Linked DNA regions of Homo sapiens. The protein of the gene in region 2 purifies or fractionates together with the protein of the main gene of each other region. This does not show direct contact. Each region holds a gene or a part of one and is shown on either strand. Other genes may lie near its edges.

The links. Proteins that work in one complex are often made in the same cells at the same time.
Region 1: the proteins of RABEPK (region 2) and TESK1 purify together in Homo sapiens (affinity purification with mass spectrometry; 3 studies listed by BioGRID and IntAct, with this or other methods). This does not show direct contact.

What each region holds. Positions count from the first base shown.
Region 1 is NC_000009.12:35,601,015-35,608,261, forward strand, and holds the start of TESK1 (dual specificity testis-specific protein kinase 1), read left to right. Parts: upstream 1-4,247; 5' UTR 4,248-4,605; coding exon 4,606-4,824; intron 4,825-4,969; coding exon 4,970-5,091; intron 5,092-5,222; coding exon 5,223-5,271; intron 5,272-5,822; coding exon 5,823-5,969; intron 5,970-6,312; coding exon 6,313-6,395; intron 6,396-6,567; coding exon 6,568-6,658; intron 6,659-6,913; coding exon 6,914-6,997; intron 6,998-7,079; exon of another isoform or gene 7,080-7,145; coding exon 7,146-7,235; intron 7,236-7,247. UniProt on the Homo sapiens protein: Dual specificity protein kinase activity catalyzing autophosphorylation and phosphorylation of exogenous substrates on both serine/threonine and tyrosine residues.
Region 2 is NC_000009.12:125,210,519-125,217,541, forward strand, and holds part of RABEPK (rab9 effector protein with kelch motifs), read left to right. Parts: intron 1-2,851; coding exon 2,852-3,004; intron 3,005-7,023. UniProt on the Homo sapiens protein: Rab9 effector required for endosome to trans-Golgi network (TGN) transport.

The DNA of each region.
Region 1 (7,247 bases), about 90 Mb from region 2:
GGCTCATGTCTGTAATCCCAGCACTTTGGGAGGCCAAGGCAGGAGGATCACTTGAGGCCAGGAGTTTGAGACCAGCCTGGGCAAAACATGGTGAGACCCTGTCTCTACAAAAAAATTAAAAATTAGCCAGGTGTGATGGCACGTGCTTGTAGTCCCAGTTACTTGGGAGGCTGAGATGAGAGAATCACTTGAGCCCGGGAGGTCAAGGTTGCAGTGAGCTTTGTGCCACTGCACTCCAGCCTGAAAAAGAGTGAGACCCGTCTCAAAAAGAAAAAAAAGATAACTAGCAATAATTGAGTATATCACATATGTGTTAAATTATGAGTTCATAATGGTACTTTAAAAAAAACCTCATCGGTCAACTTTGGAAGATGCTGGGGAACCAACTCATTACTTTGAAAGCTGGTAAAATAAGTGAGAAACAATCAAGTATTTATTCTGCCTTTCCTAGGAAATGTATCTCTGTGTAACAAATAGTTAATGTGGAAAAGTTTCTCCTTATAGAATTATTCTACCTAATACTTCTATAGGAATTCATTCAAAGAAGGAATGATAATATTATTTTCTAACTTTTTATTTATTTTGAGACAGGGTCTTGCTATGATGCCCAGGCTGGACTCGAACTCCTGGGCTCAAGCAACCCTCTCGGCTCAACTTCCCATGTAGTTGGGACTATAGTCGCGTGCCACCATGCCCAGCTTTAACTCCTCTATTAATGAACCTAGACCAGTGGTTCTTATTCAGGGTCAATTTTGTCCCCCAGAGGACAAATGGCAATGTCTAGACACATTTTTTTATTGTTACAGTCAGGAGGAGGTGCTACTGGCATCCATTAGGTAGAGGCCAGAGATGCTGCTAAGCATCCTACAATACACAGGACAGCCCCTACAATAAAGAATTTTCCAGCCCAAAATGTCAATAGTGCCACGGTTGAGAAACAAATATCAGTTATTAAAATCACAAAAAGACCACCACTGTATACCTCCTGTATACCTCCTGATAGAAGTGCTAAAACCATCTACAAATTAGTTTTGCCAAAAGAAATCTAAATTTGATTAAGTTACCAATTTATATCAAATACAGAGGATGGAGGAACATGCTAAATTACCACAGAAATCAAGACTCTAAGAAACTCTACAGGACAAATGAACCAGTTTTAAAAAATAGTAAGAAAAAAGATGGAGAATAAGCATAGATCTGCAAAGACTTAAGAAACATATGGCTGGGTGTGGTGGCTCACACCTATAATCCCAGCACTTTGGGAGGCCAAGGCGAATGGAATGCTTGAGCCCAGGAGTTGAGACCAGCCTGGGCAACGTGGCAAACCCCATCTCTACAAAAATACAAAAATTAGACAGGTGTGGTGGTACCCACACCTCAGTAGTCCCAGCCACTCAGAAGGCTGAGGCAGGATTGCTTGAGCCTCGGGGGTGGAGGTTGCTGTGAGCCGAGATCAACCCACTGCACTCCATCCTGGGTGATAGAGCCAGACCCTGTCTCACAAAAAGAGAGACAGACAGACAGACATATCACCTGCAAAGTACAGACCTAATTTAGATTTTGATTCAAATAAACAATTTTTAAAAATCAAACGTAAGACAGTGAGGGAAATGTAAACAACTGGATGCTTGATGACATGAAGGAACTATTGTTTTTTTTTGGTGTGACAATACTGTGATTTGGTTTTAAAGAAGAATCCTTATCATTTAGAGATAACGTACTGAAACATTTACAGGATGAAATGATATGTCAGAAATATACACAAATATGGAGTGGGGAAGAGGGCACGGGTATAGATGAAACAAGATTGGCCATGAATTGCTCATTGGAGAATCACTGACATAGAAGGGTAAATGAAAGTAGGTACTTTCACCTGGGCCAGGTCAAATATGGCAACAGTACAACTGAGGCAAAGGAAAGCCAATTTTGCACTATGGGTTTCCAACAAAATGGTCTTACTAATCCAAGGTAAATAAACATTCATTTTTCTATTCTGTGTGTGTGTGTTAAGACATTTTCCACCATACAAACAACAACAAAAGGTTTTTTTGAGACAGAGTCCCGCTCTTGTCGCCTAGACAGGAGTGTAATGGCGCGATCTTGGCTCACTGCAACCTCCGCCTCCCGGGTTCAAGCGATTCACCTGCCTCAGATTCCAGAGTAGCTGGAATTACAGGCGCTCGCCACATCAGGCTAATTTTTTTGTATTTTTAGTAGAGACGGGGTTTCACTACGTTGGCCAGGCTGGTCTCATCCTTTCCTGATTGAACCACAGTCACAGCCTCCTTCCTAATCAGTCTCCCGGCCTCCATACAACCACCGCAATCATCTTACAAAAAATAGGCACCTGGCTCTTTGGCTTGGCATTACCATCACCAACTACTACAGTAATTCTCAAACGTGATAAAGGGCCAGAACCCAGTGTCGGTTAAAAGATCTATGATATTAAACAAAATGAGGCATAAATTCCTAGTGTTTACAGATGTCATACAATAAAAAGCAAATTCACAAATTAGTTGTAGATGTTAACATTAATGTGATGAATGAGCGTGTGCTGAAGACCAAACGCCTCCAGAAAAAAGAACAGGATGCACGTGCCCCGTGCAATTCTGTGAGGTTGGCCTGCCTCCACCGGCTGTGGAAGGATTGCGAATGTCTCCCATTCCTCTCGCTCCAAACTTGTGCAATACCTTCCCTTGTACAGCGCACCAAGACAGCATCTGGCCTTCTCTTGACTCTAAGGCATCATGTATCATTTATGACCGTCTTTATTCTTTTCTCAGTAGCCCTCGACAAGCGAGTAGTATTTCTTGGCTCCAAGTCTCATAAACGTGTAACCAGACTCCATTGGAAGACGGTAACCCCACGCGATACGGACTGTGCTTGTATTAATTCTCTTTTAAGCTTACTACAGAAATATCAATACAGTACTTGAGAATTCCTGCAGGACTCAGCCTCGCTTCCTCGAGGAGCTCTCAGCCTGCCTCCGCACTCGAGACGGCAGCTTTCTCTCCCTCCGCCCACCGTTCCGCCGCTAGGTGGCAGGCGGCTCAACGACGCCCTTTTAAACCGTTTGCCCCGGAGTGGACCGCCGGGATCGCGTGTCACCACCCAACCCTAGCGATGATTGGCTATTTCGCCGAGGCCGGAGGAGGAACCAGCGGCAGAACCGGAAGCGTCTGGTACGGCGAGTGCACGGAGTCCTGAGACTGCGTGCGCACCCAGGCACCGCGCCGACTTAAAGAGGCCAGTTGCAGCCCCTCCTCCGGCCTTAGGGGGCAGACCGTGTTCCTACGTGGAGGGCGGAACCCTCACACTGAGGAGGGCTGGGTCACACTGAGGGGAGGAGTCACCTTGAGAGGAGGGGTCACAATGACTAGTGGATTTCCTCGGAGGTGGGGTCTCACTGCGTGGGAGGAACACAGAGCAAGGGGGTGCAGCACTGAGGGGTTCTGACACACTGACGGTGGCAGTGCCACACTGGGGAAAAGTGCCCCCGAAAGGGAGGTGTCTCACTGAGGAAGGGAGGGGTCTCCGAGGGACAGCGTTCTTTGAGGGGGGTGGGATCTTGCGGAAGGACGGGCTTCCCTGCAGGTGGAGGCTTCTCTCTTAGAGTCTTTTGGGCAAAGTAGTAAGAGGGAGGTCCCGGCTGGGTGGTCACAGGGCGGAGGACCTGGACTCTCTTCTTTATTGGGAGGCGGCAGGATGAAGTGAGGAGGAGTCGGGGCTAAGCTGGGTATGGGCCGGCCAAAGGCTTCCTATAGCCCCGGGGTATCACAACCTCCCGTGAAGGTAGAAGGTGTTAGGGAGGCCAGAGGTTCAAGGTGTCGGAGTCGAAGAGACCTGGGAAATGGGCAGGCTGGGCCGGGGCGCAGGCCAGGAAGGTGGACAGGTTGCTAGGCTACCTCTGATTGCGGCTGGGCCTGAGGGGCCTACCTTTCTGCCCCGTTGGTCCCTGGAGCCCAGGAATCCGGCAGGTTTCTGAGCCCGACCCTCAACGGACAGTAACCCAGGGAGGAGAGGGGACTCCCTGGGCAGCTAAGCTTCGCATGCGCACCATCAGCCCTTAATTCCCTCCCGTTATTCAAGCTCAGGCCGGAGCTTATTTGACCCGGGCGGCCCAGGGCATCGCGGCCGGAAAGCGGGGAGGCGGGGGTGCGCACCTGAGGGGGCGTGGCCGCTGCCGGGAGGCCGGGCTGGAAGGAGTTAAGCGGAGGCCCGGCCCAGCCCCGCCCCCGGCAGGCCGCGGAGCCTGATCCCCGGCGGCTAAGCGGAGCAGCCGCCGCCCGCCCGCCCGCCCGCCTCCGCCCGCGGCAAGCCAGCCCGCCGGCGCCCCGGAGCGCTGCCGCCACCGTCACCGCCACCGCCCGGTCCAGGCCCAAGCCCAGGCCCTGCGCGGAGCGGAGCGGCGCGGCGTCCACCCGGGCCCAGCCAGCCGGCGCGGCGGGGGCGGGTCCAGGATCTTCGGCGGATCTTCCATTCTCAGGGCGGGAGCCGGAGTCCGGGCGCCCGGGATCGGGCTGGGCCCGCGCCCATGGCAAGCGCGGCCTGCCCGGGCCCTGGGGACCCTGCCATGTGAGGCAGGCCCGGGCTGGGGGCCCGGCCATGGCCGGGGAACGGCCCCCACTGCGGGGCCCTGGGCCCGGGCCTGGAGAGGTGCCGGGGGAGGGGCCCCCGGGGCCGGGGGGCACGGGCGGAGGCCCGGGCCGGGGCCGCCCCTCCTCCTACCGGGCTCTCCGCAGCGCCGTGTCTAGCCTGGCGCGTGTGGACGATTTTCACTGCGCGGAGAAGATCGGGGCCGGCTTCTTCTCTGAGGTCTACAAGGTAGGACCGGCCGAGAGGGCAGAGGGGCGGGACCGAGCCTTCAACCAGAGGCTGAAACTAGGGGGCCGGGAGTGCGGGGAAGAGGGTCCAGACTCCGGCGACCCGCCCGACCTGCCCGGCCCTCGCCGGCTGCTCCTGCCCCCAGGTTCGGCACCGACAGTCAGGGCAAGTCATGGTGCTGAAGATGAACAAGCTCCCCAGTAACCGGGGCAACACACTACGGGAAGTGCAGCTGATGAACCGGCTCAGGCACCCCAACATCCTAAGGTGAGCGGCCCCAGTCTCTGGGCAGCTTGCTGGGCGGGAGAGAAAGGGAAAGATCCCGCGGGAAAAGTGGAACTGAGGAGGAGCTGAGGCCTTTAATAGCCTATCCTTCTATCTTCCCCATCCTCTTGCAGGTTCATGGGAGTCTGTGTGCACCAGGGACAGCTGCACGCTCTTACAGAGGTGAGGATAGGCCAGGAAGGAGGGATCCCCACCCCCCTTCACCCCCAAGGATAAAGGGAGTCAACAGGCCTGGTGGATCTACGGAGGACTAGTGAGAGGCAACAGGATCTCCTCTCAGGGGAGGCTTTCCTGAACTTTCCTTTAGGCAAACCACATATAAAAGGCCTCAACTGGTCTTATTCTCTGTATCCCCTAGAACAGTGCTGTCCAATAGAATTTTCTTCAGTGACGGAAATGTTCTCTATCTGTGCTGTCCAATACAGTAGCCACTAGCCACATGTGGTTAAATTTAAATTATTTTCATTGTTTAGATTATTTTTTGTGGGTCAACTTGATTAAAAAATTTTTTAAATTATTTAAATTGTTGCACATGGCTAATGGCTATTGAGTTGAACGGGGCAATCCTAGAACATGGATGGGGGGGGTCCTACAGCACAGTCTTACCCCTATGACCTCTGTGATCCTCGGGAGTGTCCCCTAGCGTGTAAGTGGGGGACCTAGAATACAGACTGAAGTCTGACATCTATTCCCATTCTCCTCCTATGCACCAGTATATGAATGGGGGGACATTGGAACAGCTGCTCAGCTCCCCTGAACCCCTGTCCTGGCCGGTCAGGCTCCACCTGGCCCTGGACATTGCCCGAGGCCTGCGGTACCTGCACTCCAAAGGTGTATTTCACCGCGACCTCACATCCAAGGTAGGCTAGCAGGGTGGGTGGAGACATGAAAGAGGGTTTGAGGCTATTAGGTTGTAACTGGCCTGTGGATGTTGGAATATGGATAACAGATATATTAGGATGTTGGAGTGGCAAGGCATTGGAGAATATTGGGGGACCAGGGTGAGGGGAGTGCTCGGAGGGACTGAGTAGCACCCTGTGTTTGGAGTGTTGGATGATGTTGCAATATTGAAGTGCCTTGAAAAACTGGGAGAGCAGAGAGGGTTGGAGTTATGCTGGAGTGACAGGGCTTTGGGTTATACATTGGGAGGCCAGACAGCAGAAGGTGATGAGTGCGTGGGGATACTATGTGTGTGTGTGTCAGAACTGTCTAGTCCGACGGGAAGATCGAGGCTTCACCGCTGTCGTGGGTGACTTCGGGCTGGCCGAAAAGATTCCTGTGTATAGGTGAGATGAATGTCCCTGTTCCCCCCAAATCTCCCAGAGTGCCCCTATCTGATGTCCCCAGAGCCCCAGGGATGTTTCCCTTGGGGAACGGAGGGAGTTCACCTCATCCCCTTTTGCCTGGGGGGGATGCCTGAATAGGATGCTTCTGACCACTCTGCCCCTGCCCCTGCAGGGAGGGGGCAAGGAAGGAGCCATTGGCCGTGGTGGGCTCCCCATACTGGATGGCTCCAGAGGTGTTACGGGGTGAGCTGTATGATGAGAAGGTGAGACATCAACCCTTCAGATCCCCAAGGCCTTCCGAGACCCTTGAGGTATTCTCATAAAGCCCCATCCATCCCCAAAACAACCCTACCAGATCTTCAGGAGTCCCCAAGATCCCTTTGCCCCTCACAGGCACCCTTCTAACACATGAAAACTGTCAAGATCCCCCACCCTCAACCAAATTCTGCTATATTCTGTCAAAATTCTGAAATGAAAACTGTTAATTCTTCCCCGACACTATTATCTCTGACCCCCAGGCTGATGTCTTTGCCTTCGGGATTGTCCTCTGTGAGCTCATCGCCCGAGTACCTGCAGACCCTGACTACCTACCACGCACTGAGGTGAATGTTTCTAGGTTTGCAAAGAAAGAATTCCAGACTAGCTGGCTCATAACCAAGGAGGATTCCCTAGAGGTTGAGGTTCTGACTGGGGAGCAGAAGGAGAACCCAAGAAAAGCTGACTTGGAGGTCCCTCCTTCTGTCCCCACAGGACTTTGGCCTGGATGTGCCTGCTTTCCGAACTCTGGTGGGGGATGACTGCCCACTGCCTTTCTTGCTCCTGGCCATCCACTGCTGCAACGTAAGAGCCTCA
Region 2 (7,023 bases):
ACCATCCTGGCCAACATGGTGAAACCCTGTCTCTACTAAAAATACAAAAAAATTAGCTGGGCATGATGGCTTGTGCCCGTAGTCCCAGCTGAGGCAGGAGAATTGCTTGCATCTGGGAGGCAGAGGTTGCAGTGAGCCAAGATTATGCCACTGCACTCCAGTCTGGCAACAGAGCAAGACTCCGTCTCAAAAAAAAAAAAAAAAGAAAATAAAAGAAACGATTATTCTTTGCTCTACACAAGGGCAGAAGTTGAACAATGGTGACCCACTTACGTATTTTGTTAGGTCCATGTAACATTTCCCTATTGTTTTAATCTTAAGTTTTGTTTTTTTTTTTGAAATGGAGTCTCAAACTGTCACCCAGGCTGGAGTGCAGAGGCACGATCTTGGCTCACTGCAACCTCTGCCTCCTGGGTTAAAGTGATTCTCCTGGGCCGGGCATGGTGGCTCACCATGCTGTAATCCCAGCACTTTGGGAGGCCGAGGTGGGCGGATCACGAGGTCAGGAGATTGAGACCATCCTGGCTAACACGGTGAAAACCCATCTCTACTAAAAATAAAAAAAAAAATTAGCCAGGCGTGGTGGCGGGCGCCTGTAGTCCCAGCTACTCGGGAGGCTGAGGCAGGAGAATGGCATGAACCCGGGAGGCAGAGCTTGCAGTGAGCCGAGATCGCGCCACTGCACTCCAGCCTGGGTGATAGGGCGAGACGCCATCTCAAAAAAAAAAGAAAGTGATTCTCCTGCCTCATACTCCCAAGTAGCTGGAACTACAGGCACGTGCCACCATGCCCCGCTAATTTTTGTATTTTTAGTAGAGATGGGTTTTCACCATGTTGGCCAGGAGGGTCTTGAACTCCTAACCTCAAGTGATCCACCCACCTCGGCCTCCCCAAGTGCTGGGATTACATGCGTGAGCCACCACGCCCAGCATAATCTTAAATTGTTTACCAACCAATTATGCAGAAATCTACATATAAAAATTTAAATGGTTTGGCTTCTCTTGATAATGTTGGAAAATCTAATGTCAGTAGGCCTCCCTGTCTACATGGCAACAATTATTTGGAACTGAGCTGCCACCTATCAAGAGGGCTCTTATTCTCCAGTTTGCCACAGTTTTTGTTACTCCCACCTAGGCATTTGAATTTCTACTCCCTGCACTAAAAAAATCAAAGGTAGGCTGGACGAGGTGTAATCCCCCAGCACCTTGGGAGGCCAAGGCGGGTGGGTCACTTGAGGTCAGGAGTTTGAGGCCAGCCCGGCCAATATGGTGAAACCCCCATCTCTACTAAAAATACAAAAATTAGCCAGGCATAGTAGCTCACACTTTTAATCCCAGCTACTTGGGAGGCTGAGGCAGGAGAATTGCTTGAACCTGGGAGGCAGAGGTTGCAGTGAGCCGAGATCGCGCCAGTGCGCTCCAGCCTGGGCAACAGAGCAAGACTCCATCTCAAAAAAAAAAAAAATTCAAAGGTAAATTAAATCACTTCTAGCCCTCAATTACATTAAATTAGTTCAACTTACATCTTTATTGCAACCTATTAATAGCTTTGTGACCCTGGCTACACCATCTCAACCATCTGGACCTCAGTGCTCTATAAAGTAGGGATAATAACTTGCTTCAGATCTAACAAGATAATGCCTGTAAAGGTCTTGTGTAATTGGTTAACCAAGTAAAATAATTGTTAATAATAAAGGTTAGGGTTTTTTGTTTGTTTGTTTGTTTTTTGAGACGGAGTCTTACTGTGTCACCCAGGCTGGAGCGCAATCTCAGCTCACTGCAAGCTCCACCTCCCGGGTTAATGCCATTCTCCTGCCTCAGCCTCCCAAGCAGCTGGGACTACAGGCGCCTGCCATCGCGCCCAGCTAATTTTTTGTATTTTTAGTAGAGACAGGGTTTCACCATGTTAGCCAGGATGGTCTTGATCTCCTGACCTCATGATCCGCCCACCTCGGCCTCCCAAAGTGCTGGGATTACAGGCATGAGCCACAGCGCCTGACCAAGGTTAGGTATTACTATTCTGTGAACTTGTCTTAGCCAGCCATCATTTATTTGCAAGTAACAGAATCTCACTTAAACCAGAGGAAAAAGGGGGAATTTATTTAGTCAGATACAGGCGTGTTTCTTTCTTTCTTTCTTTTTTTTTTTTTTGAGACAGAGTGTTGCTGTGTTCCCAGACTGGAGTACAGTGGCACAATCTTGGCTTGCTGCAACCTCCGCTTGGTTTACCAAGTAAAATAACCCTGGGTTCAAGCGAGTCCCCTACCTCAGCCTCCCGAGTAGCTGGGACTACAGGCACGTGCCACTATGCTTGGCTAATTTTTTGTATTTTAGTAGAGATGAGGTTTCACCATGTTGGCCAGGATGGATTCGATCTCCTGACCTCGTGATCCGCCCACCTGGGCCTCCCAAAGTGCTCGGATTACAGGCGTGAGCCACTGCACCTGGCCAATACAGGCGTGTTTCAAAGAATTCAAGGACAGGAAGTAGAGCCCAGGATCATGAGAAAGTGGAAGCACTTGATCTGGTTGGCTCATTCTGGTTTCATTGGCTACCTTCAACCCAATCAGCTAAAGCTACAAAGTCAAAGCATAGTACAAACATGTCATCTGGGATCTATCCTTGTGGTTGACAAAGTGGGGACAGTTTCCATAGAACGGGGTCTATGGACTAGGCAGACAGCCCCCTAAGTATCTATTATAGAATTTTCTGGAGGTTGACAACATGCCCTTTAAGTGATTCAGTGGTTTTCATTTATGTTTATGGCCCTCTTCTCATGACCCTCCTCAAGTGTGCCAACCAATATAATAATTGGCAGCCCCAATCTAGGAACTGGGTGAAATGTTTTCCAGGAAAACACCAGTGGGACTTAGATACCTGCAAGGGCCTCTTGCCCCGGTATGAACATGCTAGCTTCATTCCCTCCTGCACACCTGACCGTATCTGGGTATTTGGAGGTGCCAACCAATCAGGAAATCGAAATTGTCTACAAGTCCTGAATCCTGGTAAGTAGCCAAAGGTTATTTTATTTACGTACATACAAATAAACTTTCATGCACACACACACACATATATATAAATCCAATTATAATTCCAGTACATTTGGATTATACTAATTACCATTTAACTTTGCTGACATAGAAAATAGGAATTTTAACTTGTAGCATAATCTGAAAACAACAGAATAAAAACAATTGTTGGTAACACATACAATTTTTAACTTGTTAAATGTCAAAGCTGGAAGGGACTTCAGAGAACAGCTATATCAAGTGGGCTACTCAGGTTTATCAAGGGCAAAGTGACTTTCCTAAAGTCACAAGAGGCCGGGCATGGTGGCCCATGCCTGTAATCCCAGTACTTTGGGAGGCTGAAGAAGGCAGATCACTTGAGGTCAGGAGTTTGAGATTGGCCTGGCCAGCATGGTAAAACCCCCATCTCTATTAAAAATAGAAAAATTAGCTGGGTGTAGTGGTGGGCGCCTATAATCCCAGCTACTCAAGAGGCTGAGGCAGGAGAATCGCTTGAACCCGGGAGGCGGAGATTGCAGTGAGCTGGGATCATGCCACTGCACTCCAGCCTGGGCGACAGAGTGAGACTCTGTCTCAAAAAAAAAAGAAAAAGAAAAAAAAATTTTTTTAAAAATAAAGTCACAAGAGAGTCAGTGACTGAGCCAGGCTTAGAACCCAAGTCACCTAGATTAGTAGTCCTCCAGTAAAGGCGATTGTGCCCCCGGGGGACATTTGGCCATATCTGGAAACATTTTGGGTTATCACAACTGGGGGTAGCGTGGGCTACTGGCTTCTAGGGGGTAGAGGCCAGATATGCTGTATATATATCCTGTCGTGCCTAAGACAGCCATCACAGGGAAGAATTGTCTGGTCTAAAATGTCAGTAGTGCCAAAGTTAAGAAACACTGACCTGGATCCTCCTAGTATGTTTCTTTTAGCCAAAAGTACAAAGTTCCTAACTTGTCTCACTGGCAAGACATTTTGTTTGTTCGTTTTGTTTGTTTGTTTTTGTTTTTCATATCTTGCTGTTTCCATCACTGGCAGTTTTATTATAGAGGAAGCAGTTTGGGAACGTCGCTACTGAGAGGAGGTTGCTAAACCACCTGTGGGGAAGTGGACTTGTCTTTTTGCCTTTTGTTTGTTTGTTTTTGTTTTTCTCTTTACAAATATTATTTATGTTCATTGTAAAATATTTGAAAAGTACAAATAAGTGGAAAAAGTCATCCACAATCCATTATTATATTAAGGCTATTACCAATTTTCTGTCTTTTTTTTTTTTTTTGTGACGGAGTTTCACTCTTGTTGCACAGGCTGGAGTGCAGTGGTGTGATCTCGGCTCACCACAACCTCTGCCTCCCGGGTTCAAGTGATTCTCCTGCCTCAGCCTCCCAAGTAGCTGGGATTACAGGCATGCGCCACCATGCCTGGCTAATTTTGTATTTTTAGCAGAGATGGGGTTTCTCCATGTTAGCCAGGCTGGTCTCAAATTCTTGATCTCAGGTGATCCGCCCACCTCAGCCTCCCAAAATGCTGGGATTACAGGCATCAGCCAATGTGACCGGCCCAGCTTTCTGTCTTTTTCCTGTCTTTTCTCTGTTTTTACAAGCCTGAGATCATACTATATTTACACATTCATAACTTTTTCCTTTTAATTTCATAATCCCAGGAGAAATAGGTGGGTTTTTTTTTTTTGGCTTTAGCAAAAATAATTGATTTGTTATTAATAACAATGCTTTGTTAATATAATATCATTTGTTTGTTTTTTTTGGGTTTTTTTATTGTTGGTAACTTTTTTTTTTTTCGAGGCAGGGTCTCACTCTGTTGCCCAGGCTGGGATGCAGTGGTATGATCACAGCTCACTGCAGCCTCGACCACCCAGGCTCAGGTGAACCTCCTACCTCAGCCTCCCAGGTAGCTGGGACTACAGGCGCTTGCCACCATGCCTAGCTAATTTTTTTGTATTTTTTGTAGAGACAGAGTTTTGCCATGTTGCCCAAGGTGGTCTCAAACTCCTGGGCTCAAGCAATTTTCCTGCCTCGGCCTCCTGAAGTGTTGGGATTACAGACATGAGCCACTGCACCTGGCCAACATCATTTTTAATGGCTGTATCATACTCCATTATATATAAAATACTCCATAATATCATAACTTCTCCATTTATGAACATTTAGTTCTTTTCAGGTTTTTACCATTATAATTAACAAAGCAGTGAACATCTTCATTCAGAAGTCATAGACTGTATTTCAAATTATTTTCTTAGGGTTCCTGCCAAGAAATAAAAAGGCTAGGTAAAATACTGTGAACCTTTTCAAGGTTTTGATACATACTACCAAATTGCTCTCCAGAAAGATTTTTCCGGTTTATCCTCTCTCCAACTGTGTTTAACAGTGTTTCTTTCATTACTGACCAGCACTGAATTTATCAGTTTTAAACATTGCTAATTTGATAGGCAAAAAAACTTGTACATAGTTTAAATATGCATTTTGGGCCGGTGCGGTGGCTCACACCTGTAATCCCAGCACTTTGGGAGGCTGAGGTGTACAGATCACCTGAGGTCAGGAGTTCCAGAGCAGCCTGGCCAACATGGTGAAACCCTGTCACTACTAAAAATACAAAAATTAGCCAGGCATGGTGGTGCATGCCTGTAGTCCCAGCTGCTGAGGAGGGCGAGGCAGGAGGATCGCTTGAACCCTGGAGGCAGAGGTTGCAATGTGCCGAGATCATGCCACAGCCTGAGCAATGAGTGAGACTCTCTCTCAAAAAAGCATTTTTTGACCTGGACATTTTTCACATGTCAGCCAACTCTTGCTCAGTTCCCTCTATCAACAATATATTTGGGGTGTTGCCCACCTACTACATTTGTTGAGTATTGCCCGATAAAAAAATTAAAATTAAAAAAAAAAACTATTGTACAATAGTTGGTCAGAGTTCAGGAACTAGGACCAAATTTTCTTATATGTCAAGTATTTAAATTCCTTCAGCACATTTAGACAGTATGTTATCTTTTAATTTGATTTATTTGTTTGGGTATTTATTTCCTGTCTTCCCTCCTCTTCCATGCCCTCCCTCTGTGGAACATAAGCGCTTTGAAGGGAAGAGTTTGTTTATTGTTGAATACTCAGGGTACAGAACACTGTCCGAAATAAAGTAGACACGGCCGGGCATGGTGGCTCATGCCTATAATCCCAACACTTTGGGAGGACGAGGAGGGCGGATCAAAAGGTCAGGAGTTCCAGACCAGCCTGGCCAACATACTGAAAGCCCGTCTCTACTAAAAATACAAAAGAAAAAATTAGCTGGGCTTGGTGGCAGGTGCCTGTGGTCCCAGCTACTTGGGAGGCTGAGGCAGGAGAATCGCTTGAACCTGGGAGGTGGAGGTTGCAGTGAGCCGAGATCGCGCCACTGCACTCCAGCCTGGGTGACAGAGTGAGACACCGTCTCAAAAAAAAAAAAAAAAGAAGAAAGTGATAGAGTAGACACTTGGCAGACCATTTGGCTAATTGTGAAGCCAATTTGCTTGGAGGACTAGCAGTATAATATGGTGCTTAAGGGCACAGATGAGGGTCTCTGTTTTGCTATGCACTAACTATGACCTTGGACTAGTGATTTAACCTCTCTCTGCCTCTGTTTTCTGTCACATTGGATAGTAATAGTTTCTACCTTGTTAATTTGTCAAGGATTTAAATAAACTCAGTATCTGGCACATAATTAATGCTCAGTAATTGTTGTGGTAGTTGATGTAGTTAAGGTTTGGCAAAGGGAAATCAGTTCTGGAACCCTGGCCTTTTGATTTTCAACAATGGTATCCATTGAAATAAAATAAAGTGAGAATTTGGAAAGCTGTCAAAGAGGGTGATTTTATTTTATTTATTTATTTATTTATTTTTATTTTTGAGACAGTGTCTCACTGTGTTGCCAAGGCTGGAGTGCAGTGGCGCAATCTCAGCTCACTGCATCCTCCACCTCTTGGGTTCAAATGATTCTCCAGCCTCAGCCTCTCGAGTAGCTGGGATTAC